Homo sapiens: one gene and its partners. The protein of the gene in region 2 interacts with the protein of the main gene of each other region in a pairwise test. Each region holds a gene or a part of one and is shown on either strand. Other genes may lie near its edges. The genes, in order: CCDC172, PCDHB12 and USH1C.

Region 1 (3,753 bases), on a different chromosome or scaffold from region 2:
GGATTGGTGAGGATATTGACCTGATATAATATATTTTTTAATGTTACTCTGTAATATTTTCTTTGTTAGCAAAGTTTTGTTTTGTCTGCAAATGGAAATGTAATTTGTTGATATATACACATACATTAAAAAATGTTGATTCAGTTGTTTTTACTAGAAAGAAGACAGAAAAGGCCTACCATTGTTTAGAAACATTTGTTGAAATTACTAATTAATATAGGTTCATAAGCATGCATTGCTTTTTAACCAGCTCATATATGTGGGTAATAATACATTTGTATCTTACTAATAAAATTAACATATGAGGGTCACAGTTCATACAATACTAATTTATAACTGAAATAGTTTGATTTGTATTATAGTCAAGATGGTATGTATATGTGCATAAAGATTTTAAAAGTGGAATCACAATTATAATGCATATGACTAATGGGAAGAACTGAAGAACTAATCCTAAATTGATTTCTTGTTTCTTTTATTCTGAGTTAATTATATGTCTGCCAATAACAATGAAAATATATTTACTTGAATATTTGACTTGGCATTTATTGACCCATTTATCAAACAGTAGCAGCACAAGGAGAAACTATTAATAGAACATAATTTGAATAGAGCAGTGCTTGAGCTATTGTACAGTCATACATTCAGAAAATTTGGGGGGCATTTATTTTGGATGTTGTTTCTGGTCAATAAATGTATTTGGGAAGTACAGTATTCATTTTTTTTCTTTTATGTAAAACCCGGATAGCATGTAATTAGAACTTGAATGATAGCATTTGCCTTGCAGGGCTCAATGAGTCTTTTAAAATATATGGTTGCAAAAGTCTCAGGTTATATAGTATGAGTACTTTATGAATTGGACAGCTACACTATGCCTGGTTAGGTTTGGTAATATGAAAACAGAAAAATGAGAACATGCCCTGGATTTGCATTCATGCTTACCAATACATCCAAAACTTCTGATAGTTAAGGAAAAGTTGTATAGTATTGATGACAGGGCAAACCAAAATTAAGGACTGACAGAACATTGGTAGTTTCTTTTAAACATCTAAAAGAGCTTCTTCTATTTTTAAAAATGGCATATAATTAAAATTTTGACATTTAATTTTTATAAACATATTACATAAAACTCAATATAATGCCATATTCCCTTAAGAGGGAGTAAATGGAGGAAAATCTGAGGCTATTTTGTGAATATTTTGTTTATTTTTTCTGTTTCCAATTTTAACTTGTGTAAACACCATAACAATAATAAAAGAATATTTCATGAATTTTTAAAGGAAAATTGTATTGAAATTAAAAAGTAACTTAAGGTGGCCCCATTTACTTCTTTACCTCAATATGTATGTGTTCTTTTATTTTAATTGGTAAAAGTTAGGAAACCTCCAGAACAGCAGGCAAAGTCATATCCTTTAGTACTGTATTACCTAATTGGAGAAAGAACAAAATCACAAATTATTATCATTTATAGTATTGAAATGGAGTTTTGTAATTGGAGTGCTTTTTTCTTTCTTTACACTTAATCAAAAAAATTTAGATCCTACCAATATTTAATTTTATAGTTGGCAATTATTCATTCAACAAACATTCATTGAGCAACTGCTAAATCACACTATGAATACTTGGCAAATAAATTATATAACACCTTCCTTCCTGAATTACAGGATTGACATCAAGCAATTTCAACTATATAAACCTAACTGTAAACTCAAAATTTTTGAAGTTCTCATTTAAAGAAAAAATTTGTTTCCATTTTCTCTATGAAATTCTATAAAGAAAGCCTTATCATGTTTGTCATGAGTAATTATCCAAAACTTGGAAATAGGCAAAAAAGGTCACTGAGTGTCCTTTGAGTATTGTATTAGACATTGTCCAGTAGCTCACCTTCCTGAGGACAGTCAGGTTTATGGGGGTGTGAACCTTTGTAATGGGCTGTTTTTTCTTGGATATGCCAATCATTCTTTGACCCCAGGGCCTTTGCACTTGCTGTTTCCTCTGCTTGAAATGCTGATTCCATTAGCTGTTATTCTGTCATGCACGCTCACTTCATTTAGATCTCTCCCAGTAGAATCATGTGGGACTTTTAGTGCTAACACTAGGACAGCCCCATGCAAATCTTGATGGTTGGTTAGCCTAAGTCTCTGCTCAGTTGTCACCTTAGAGCATTATTCTTAAAGTGTGATCTCTGAGTTCAAAGGGGTCCCCAAGACACTTTCAGGGAGTTTGTAAGGTCAAGCTATTTTTATGATAATACTATACAAAGGTACCATTTGCCATCTTCTCTATGTTAATGCACACATTGACAGTGCAAAAGCAGCAGTGAGTAAAACTCTTAGCACCTTAACACAAATCGAGGTGGTGGCACCAAACTGTACTAGTAGTCATCTCGTATTCTTCACTGCCATGCACTCTCAGTAAGAAAACAAAAACCGCTAGTTTTACTTAATGTTTTGATTGAAGTGTCAAAAATATTAATTTTATTGGAACTGATCATTGAGTATATTCATTTTCAATATTGTGTACGATCACATGGGTGGTACATCTAAAGTACTTTTATATTCCGAAGTGCCACGATTGTCTCAAGAGAGAGCATGTGTGCAGTTGTTTGAGATGCAGTATGAGCTAGCTATTCTTTTTCTGAAACGCCATTTTTACTTAGATAATTGACAGTCAAGTTGTAGTTATTTAGATTTGGGTGTTTGGCAAAATTTTCTGAAAAATAAATGAAGTAAGCCTAAAATGTCAAGGCAAACATCTGACATTCTTCTTATTATTTTGCCAATGATAATATGCAAGCTTTCAAACAAAAATTAGAATTTTGGAGGATTCCTATCTATCTTGGCAGCTTGGCAGCTTCCTGGTACTTAAAGATTTTTCTGGTGAGTTCGTTAGTGATATTAATGAATATGAATGTTACTTTTGAAGCAGTATGTTTCAAGATGTTTCAGAATGTTACTTTTCAAAGCATATTATGAAATATATCAACATTTGGAGGATCTGCATAATTCAGGGAAGCAGTAAGTAATGCATAAAGTTACAAAACTGTGCATAGATAAAAGGTAGACTCAAAGTGCAATGTAGACCAATGGATTTTATTATAACATAGAATGAAAAGTTCATTGAAACGGCTTCAGATTCCACATTGCAACTAACCTTTAAGGAGCTACCACATGGTGAATTTTGATATAGTATCAAAGAAGAATATGCACAATCATTTCCAACTACATATCTGTGCACTCCGTATTCTCCAACTGAAAAACGTATTACAAAAGATTGAGTAGAAGCAGATATGAGAGTCCAGCTATCTTCTTTTTTAATTTTTTGTTTTTATTTATTTATTTTTAAGAGACAGAGTCTCACTCTGTTACCCAGATTGGAGCTCAGTGGCACAACAACAGTTCACTGCAACCTCAAACTCCTGGCCTCAAGTGATCCTTCTGCTTCAGCTTCCTGAGTAGCTGGGACTACAGGCCTCTGCCACCCTACCTGGCTAATTTAAAAAATATATTGTTTTCTAGAGACAGGGTCTTGCTATTTTGCCCAGGCTAGTTTTGAACTCCTGGCCTCAGGTGATCCTCCCACTTTGGTCTCTCAAAGTTCTGAAATTACAGGCGTGAACCACCAAACCTGGTCTCAGCTGTCTTCCATTAAGCCAGATGTTAATGAGATTTGTAAAAAATCTATATGCAACTCCTTTTTCTAATTTGTTTTTGTTTTGGAAAGTCATTTTTCAATACAAATGTGGTATTTAAA
Region 2 (3,753 bases):
CCCGGGCTCCGTGGCCTTGAGCAGCTGGTACGACAGCCAGGCGTTCTGGCCCGAGTCACCGTCCACCGCCACCACCTTGGTCACCAGGTAGCCCGGCTCGGCCGCCCAGGGCACCAGCTCGGTGCAGGGCGCGGAGCCGTTCTGCAGCGGGTACAGCACGAAGGGCGAGTTGTCGTTGGCGTCCAGCACCAGCACGCGCACCAGCGCCTCGCTGCTCAAAGCCGGGGAGCCGTGGTCTGTGGCGCCCACGCGGAACTGGAACCCCTGCAGGGCCTCGTAGTCCAGCGACCTGAGGGCAAACAGGTGGCCGTTGTCCGCGTTGATGGAGACCAGGGAGGCGAGGGGCAGGTGCGGGTCCTGGGACGGCAGCAGCGAGTAGTTGACCTGGGCGTTGGTGCCCGAGTCTCTGTCTGTGGCGCTGATGCTGCCGATGTGCAGGGCGGGGCTGTTGTTCTCGCGGACGAACAGGGCGTAGGAAGTTTGGGTGAAGGCGGGGGCGTTGTCATTGACGTCGGAGACCAGCACGGTTATGTTGTGCTCGGTTTTTAGCCTGGGGGTCCCCAAGTCGGTGACGGTGATGGTGATGTTGTACTCGGCTCTGCTCTCTCTGTCCAGCGGTCTCTCTGTTTCCAAAGTGTAGTAATTATTTACCGAAGATTTTAGCACGAATGGGATGTCCTCCGGGATAGAACAAACCATCTTTCCGTTGTCCCCAGAGTCTCTGTCTCGTATCCTGAAAACCATAACCACAGTCTCTGGAGTGTTTTCTGGGATTGGACTGGTAATTGATGACACAGTGATTTCAGGAGCGTTGTCGTTTACATCCATCACCTGAATTCTGACTGTAGATTTTCCAAAAAGTCCTCCCCCATCTGTGGCTTGAATGATTATTGAGTATGACTCAATTGCTTCAAAATCCAAAGGTGCTGTTAAAGTAATGTCACCAGACTTTTGATTAATTTCAAATGTCTTGCGAATATCTTCTGAGGCATGGGAAAAGGTATAGGATAGTTCACTGTTTGTTCCAGAGTCTAAATCCCAGGCTGAGACGGTCACAACCAGGGAGCCAAGGATGCTATTCTCCAGAATCTTCACCTCATAAAAAGCCTGCTCAAACTCAGGGGAGTTGTCATTAATATCTACAACCACCACCCTGACCAAGGCAGTTCCAGACCTGGGAGGGGACCCGCCATCCAGAGCAGTGAGGATGAAACTGAGCTCCGGGCGCTCTTCATAATCCAGCGCCTTGTCCAGAACTAACTCAGGGTATTTCCTATTGTCTGGATTGACTCTTATTTTAACGTGGAAATGAGAGTTCGGATTTATTGTGTAGCTTTTTACAGCATTGATTCCTACATCTAAATCCTTTGCACTTTCAAGCAAGAACACAGCACCAACAGGACTGTTCTCTGGGATTTCTAAGAGCATTTCTTTTTCCAAGAAGACGGGAGAGTGATCATTTATATCCCTGACCTGGAGCTCAATTTGTAAAAACTGCGTGGGGTTTTTCATTAACACTTGGAAATACAGCACACAAGGCTCATTGGAGCCACAGAGCTCCTCCCTGTCTAGCATTTCTCTCAGGAGCAAATCCCCAGTGTTTGTGTCCAGCTGCAAACACTCTTTGTTATCATTAGAAACCACCCGAGCCCCCCGCGAAGACAGCTCACTCACCTCGAGTCCCAGGGTCTTTGCCAAATTTCCTACAAAGCTCCCGCTCTGCAATTCCTCCATCACCAAAAAGTTCCCAGTTTCAGAGCCCGCCTGAGACATTCCCAGCAAAACAAAGAAAAGCAGGACTTGCCTTATCTGCAGAGTGCCTGCCCCTCCGTTTTCCATAGCTTCTTTTCCAAAACCCCAAAATCTTCTTGCAGAATTGCCTCAGCGCCTCTTCGCAGTTGTGGGAAACGTGCCTCTGATCTGTCTACCAAATCCTCGGAAGCCTGAAGATTTTAACCTTGTTGAATGGCTTCTAGGTTCTCCCTTAAAGGATTGTTCTTTCTGTCTTCCCAGTTCTCCGCGTGTACTGGATAACAGGGTCTACAACATCCTCCAGGGTAATTTTTTTCTTGATATTATCCTGCAGCGCCACCACGCGTCTCCACAGATTTTCACAGTTTGATGAACACTACCTAAATTTTATTTACATAAATGTCCTCCAGAAGCAAATAAATATTGCGTTTAAATAATTCCTTCTGTTGAAGTAATTAAAAATATATTTTATCTTCCATAATAATCGTTTTATATTCTTTATAGTTTGTGATGATGATTTTGTTTTAAAGCATTTATTCAGTGTCTTTCCCCACTCTTCTCACAACCAAATGTGTTCAGTTGTGGTAAACACAGATACAAGATGTGATCCCTGGCTCCCAGGAATTCATAGTGTTTCTGAGACAATTGTAAGCCTGAAACAAGCAGGGTATAAGTGATTGTTAAGCTGAATGAAATTCTATTACTACTTGGCTTTCCTTACGTGATAAGGTAAAGGAAAGGTCATCTCAGAAATCCTTTCTGAAGTTATGAAACTGGATTAACCATGAGATGAGGCATATATAGGTCAACACAACAGCATAAAAAGGCACTTCTGTAGATTTCCTTAATAGCAATGAATTGTGAACAGGCAGAAAATGAAGCAAGAGATTGGGGTGGAACATGTTATGTAAACCCATCATTTAGTTCCAGTTTTTCATAATTTACAAAAAAATTCATAAGTACACAAGCATGAGCAAGTTAGTTTAATTTAAAGCAGACTCTTATTCCTAAAGCTGACTTGCCTTAGGTTCCCAAAATTTATTGTAGCCACAACTGTAGCTATCTGTTTTCTCTTTCAGCCCAGGAAGAGAAAGTAAGAGTCTATCCCTAAACATAGAACAAAAACCTAACTTTCACTCTAATTAGACCAAGTAAGATCATGTGTCTGCCACTGAAGCAATCATTGTTTCAAGAGGTATAGAATTATAGTTGGAGATTTTAGTCCTAGAATCTAAAGACCTGTCTCTGGCCATTACTGTGTTTTAATCCTGTCTGGGACCACCTCTTAAGCTTGGGAAGGTTTCAGTCCTAGCCAAAGTACCTCATTGGTACAAAATGAGGGAGACTGTTTGCAACAGATGCTAAGGGCTCATCAGTGATATTCACTATAGAAAGTCTTAAAGTGCACTAAGAATGGATGGGAGAAGAATCCAACAAGTCTGCATTTTAAAATGTTAAATTCAATTAATATTCTTAAAAATGTAAGCTGGATACATGGTTGAAATAGTAATTGGTACAGAAGGGTAAAACTTGAAAAGTAGATGAATTGAGCACACACAATTAACCTCTCTTTTTAAAAAAAAATATGCACTAAAATGGCAGAAAAGTAATTAAAATGGTAGGAACTAACAAAGATTAAGAATACACAAGTGAACACATACATTTTTCTATGACAGAAAGCAGGTGGAAGAGCAATTAACTTAGCAGTTCCAAAAAGTGCCCCTAAAGTAAAGTTCCTGCATTGAAGATACTCACAAGAAACATAATCTCTTTTAAGCGCAAGATCTGGAGGAACCAGATGTTTAAGAAGACTGAAGTCAGTTAAGGATGGAAAAAAGTTATTAGTTGGAAGTATGTGTAGAGGATAATTGAATTCTCTGTTCTTCTCATCACCCTACATAGATGGAAACATAACTCACAGCCAGAAAATAGAAAGTTTATTCTCTGGAGAAATTTAATGGGACTTTCTCTAGTCTTGGGGATCTAGGCACAGCTGAGCAC
Region 3 (3,753 bases), on a different chromosome or scaffold from region 2:
GTCGTGGTGGTATTGGCCCCAGTAGACTTCTAGGCAAGGGTATAGATTTGAGATGCATTCATTCATTCATTCATTCATTCATTCACTCAACAAATTTGTTTGGCATTGATTCCATGCCATGCACTGTTCTAGGCATATAGTGGTAAATAAAGCAAACACAGCTATCTTCACACAGGAGGAAGCTGGGGGCACAGATAGGAAGATGAAGAGGAAAGAGCTAAGGATGGAGCCTTAAGGAATGCTGGTTAAGGAACAGGCAAAGACTGATTGTCTCCAAGGAAGCTTGAAACAAAAATTCATGAGAGAGGAGAACCAGGTCTCAATGCTATTCTCAAAACAAAGCAGGGGGCATTTTAAGGTGGAGGGAGTCTGTGGGGGTAATGGCCAATGTAAAATAAGGATTGGTGTGGCAGGTGAACAGCATTCCCCTGGATAAGGACATTCATTCACCTCTGCCAGGATTCTAAATACAAAATAAACAGCCATATGACATTCTTTTCCAATGTAGAGAATCAATGAAGTAAGTCGGAGGGGAATGCATTTTGTGTGGCCTTTTCTGGACCATTCAAAAATCCCACAAGTCTTTCCATTTTATCGCTGACTTAATAGTTAATGCTAAGGTGAGAAAACAGATCATATTTTAAGGTTCTTCTCCAAGAGGGATTTACATCTTAAACTAGGCAACAAAAATAGTGTGCTTGTAAAACTTCAGCTATTGGGGAGAGGGACGCAGAGGGGTGTTTAGGTGCCCCAGAGTTACAATTGTAAGTGGTTACCTGATGTAAGCTGCTGTCCATCTCCTTGCCCCTGCCCTTGACAGGGCACAAAGGGCTCAGGTGCCTCCCTGGGTTAAGTTCAGGCACAAGCCCCATACTTAGCCTCTGATTTACACATTTTTATCACCCCTCTCCTAGCCCCTCTTTCCTTTCATCTCTTTCCAGGCCTGGTTCATCATTGTCTTTGATGAATCTTTCCTTTCATTCCTTTCCAGGCCTGGTTCATCATTGTCTTTGCACCAAGCACTAGACCTAGGAGTTAAGCAAATGCTGACCAAATTGAATTAAATGAACCAGAGGGTCTGGGCCCTGGGTGAAGGTCAGCCATAGATCAAAATGTCACTGCCAGGCTCTGCCAGGCTTCGATGGATATGTGAGTGTGTTGGGTTTGGGTTTTGTTTTGTCTTGTTTTGTTGGGGGTGGAGGTGTTAGGGAAGGTGGGAGGGGAAATCAGTTGAGGGGGGCACTCTCACACACACTGATTCAGACCCCTGCGGCCCACAGTAAAACCCAGCCCTGTCCCCAAGGAATTCACAGAACAAGGATTGATTTCTCCCTGGTGGAAAAGTGCAGGAGGAAGCCAGGACTGAAGGTACGCTGGAGGTGAGGGCGTAGCAAGGGCTGACAGTCCAGGAGGGCCATGAACCTCGACAAGAGTATCCAGAGAAGGCCGGGCGCGGTGGCCCGCGCCTGTAATCCCAGCACTTTGGGAGGCCGAGGTGGGCAGATCACGAGGTCAGGAGATCGAGACCTTCCTGGCGAACACGGTGAAACCCCGTCTCTACTAAAAATACAAAAAAAAAAAATTAGCCGGGCGTGGTGGCGGGCGCCTGTAGTCCCAGCTACTCGGGAGGCTGAGGCAGGAGAATGGCGTGAACCCGGGAGGCGGAGCTTGCAGTGAGCCAAGATCATGCCACTGCACTGTAGCCTGGGCGACAGAGCGAGACTCCGTCTCGGGGGGGAAAAAAAAAGAATATCCAGAGAAAACGGACTAGATTGCCCCGCCCCCCGCCCGTGTAAATAGTTTCCGTATCTCTCTATTCCGGTCCCCACAAAAAAGTCCCAAACCTCCTCCCTACGTCTCCACGATCTTCTTCCTCAAACGCATGTGTTCAGGTACCACTTCCAGAGAAATACCAGCTTGAAGCCCAGCTACTGCCACCTCAGGCCCATAGGCACACTGGGGCCCATTTGCTCCCAGGCTTCAGTGGGAGGCGACGACTCAGCACCTTCGACTCCAGCCTCGCAGCGGCCCCGCCCCACAGAGGCCTGGCCCCGCCCCTCCGCGCTCAGGCCCCGCCCCCAGCTCCGAGGGCGGCTGGCCCGGTCGCGGTCGCGGCTCTTTCCAGCTCCTGGCAGCCGGGCACCCGAAGGAACGGGTCGTGCAACGACGCAGCTGGACCTGGCCCAGCCATGGACCGAAAAGTGGCCCGAGAATTCCGGCATAAGGTCAGAGCTGCAGGGCGCCCCAGGCTTCTGGGACTCCGGAGTCCTGGGCGCGGTGGGTAGGGGGTGGACACCCCGGCACTGCCCCTCCCTTTTCCGGCCCCACCTGATGGCTCTGGTTGGGCTGGGACACCCGAGGGTCGTCTGGCTGGCAGCAGGGATCCCCAGTAAAGTGAGGGAGGGAATGCGGGGACTCCCGGCTCAAGGACTGCTAAACGAGTCGATCTTCTGCCAGCCTTTCTCCCTCTGCCTTCCAGGGGCAGGGACGTCTCTGGGGTTTGAATTCCTTCCAGTCTTGGCCGCTTTTCTGAGGTGCCCCCTTTGTGGGCAAGCCCCTCTCCTTCCTAGTGCCCCCAGCTCAGGGCTGTTGAGGCATGTGGAGACAGTCTGGGGCAGTATCTGAGAGGTGAGGGTTGGGAGAAGGGAAACTAGACGTCTCTCTCTCTGCCTTTTGACCTCAGAACATGAGTTAGAAGCATTTCAGCCCTGCCTGCCTAAGGGCGTTTCTTAGGGTCTGAGAAGTAGCTGAGGAGCTGGTGCTGACCCGGGTGCGGTGGGGAGGAAGGGAGGAGGTACTGAGGGCGTCGGAGCTGGGCTCTGGCCGGCCAGATCCTTCAGGCAGAGCCGGGTCCACCCTGGTGTGTCCCAGTGAGGGGCCTCACTGGTGGTCTGGGATTCTCAAGGACCATCTCTGGAAGTGGCCAGGTTTCACACAGGGCATTTCGAGAATGATTCACAAAGCTGTGCAGAATCTGCTGAGGCCCTGAGACCAGAGAGGGCCATCAAAGAGATCCAGCCTACTTCCCCACCAAGTCTTAGGATGCCTCTGAGTCTGGGGATGAAGCCGCTTGGGGGGGGTGGGTGGTATCTGGAGCTCCCCACAGGCCCTGCCTGAGGGGCAGGTAACTATTGATAACTTAACTATTGATAACTGTGTGACCCAAGGCTCTCCCAAAGACCCCAGGGGCAGTGTCTTTAGACCAAGCCAAACCTCTTCCTGGTTTGAGAGCTGAGCTCAGGTAGGGCAGGTCAGGGTGCTTAACTCCTTCCTTCCCATAAAGAGGCCCATAGGAGCCCAAGGAGCTAGCCAGTGTAGGGGCCACAGGGGCTTGGGGCCAAGGGCCCGGGGTCAGTTATTCATTTAATAAGCATGTTTTGAGCATCCTCTCAGCCATACCCAGTCTGTGCCCTTTGCTGGTGGTGTAGGTGGGAGGCAGACCCTACCCTGGTAATTACCCATGTCTGAGTGCTGCGTGTTGAGGCCAAGCTTTTGTAGGGGCACAAAGGGACAGCTCAAACTGGCAGAAGGCTCCTGAAAACAAGGTCTTGGGCATTTCTGGTCCTGCTCCCAGGGGTGGGTGATAGCTGGAAGTTCAGCAGGAATTTAGGGGCTGGCGAATACCAAGGGGAGCTTGAGAGAGCATTCACTGTTACATCCTGTTGCAAAGAGACATGTCGGAAGAAATTTCAGCCACTAAGGACATTTTGTGAGTGTAGATTTCAGGCAACCCAGTTTGAAGGAGCTCAGCCT

Evidence for each region.
Region 1: the proteins of PCDHB12 (region 2) and CCDC172 interact in binary tests that used the Homo sapiens proteins (3 or more experiments, as listed by UniProt).
Region 3: the proteins of PCDHB12 (region 2) and USH1C interact in binary tests that used the Homo sapiens proteins (3 or more experiments, as listed by UniProt).

Annotation. Positions count from the first base shown.
Region 1 is NC_000010.11:116,327,407-116,331,159, forward strand, and holds part of CCDC172 (coiled-coil domain-containing protein 172), read left to right. Parts: intron 1-3,753.
Region 2 is NC_000005.10:141,206,994-141,210,746, reverse strand, and holds the start of PCDHB12 (protocadherin beta-12 precursor), read right to left. Parts: upstream 2,029-3,753; 5' UTR 1,840-2,028; coding exon 1-1,839. UniProt on the Homo sapiens protein: Potential calcium-dependent cell-adhesion protein. May be involved in the establishment and maintenance of specific neuronal connections in the brain.
Region 3 is NC_000011.10:17,542,744-17,546,496, reverse strand, and holds the start of USH1C (harmonin), read left to right. Parts: upstream 1-2,080; 5' UTR 2,081-2,189; coding exon 2,190-2,225; intron 2,226-3,753. UniProt on the Homo sapiens protein: Anchoring/scaffolding protein that is a part of the functional network formed by USH1C, USH1G, CDH23 and MYO7A that mediates mechanotransduction in cochlear hair cells. Required for normal development and maintenance of cochlear hair cell bundles.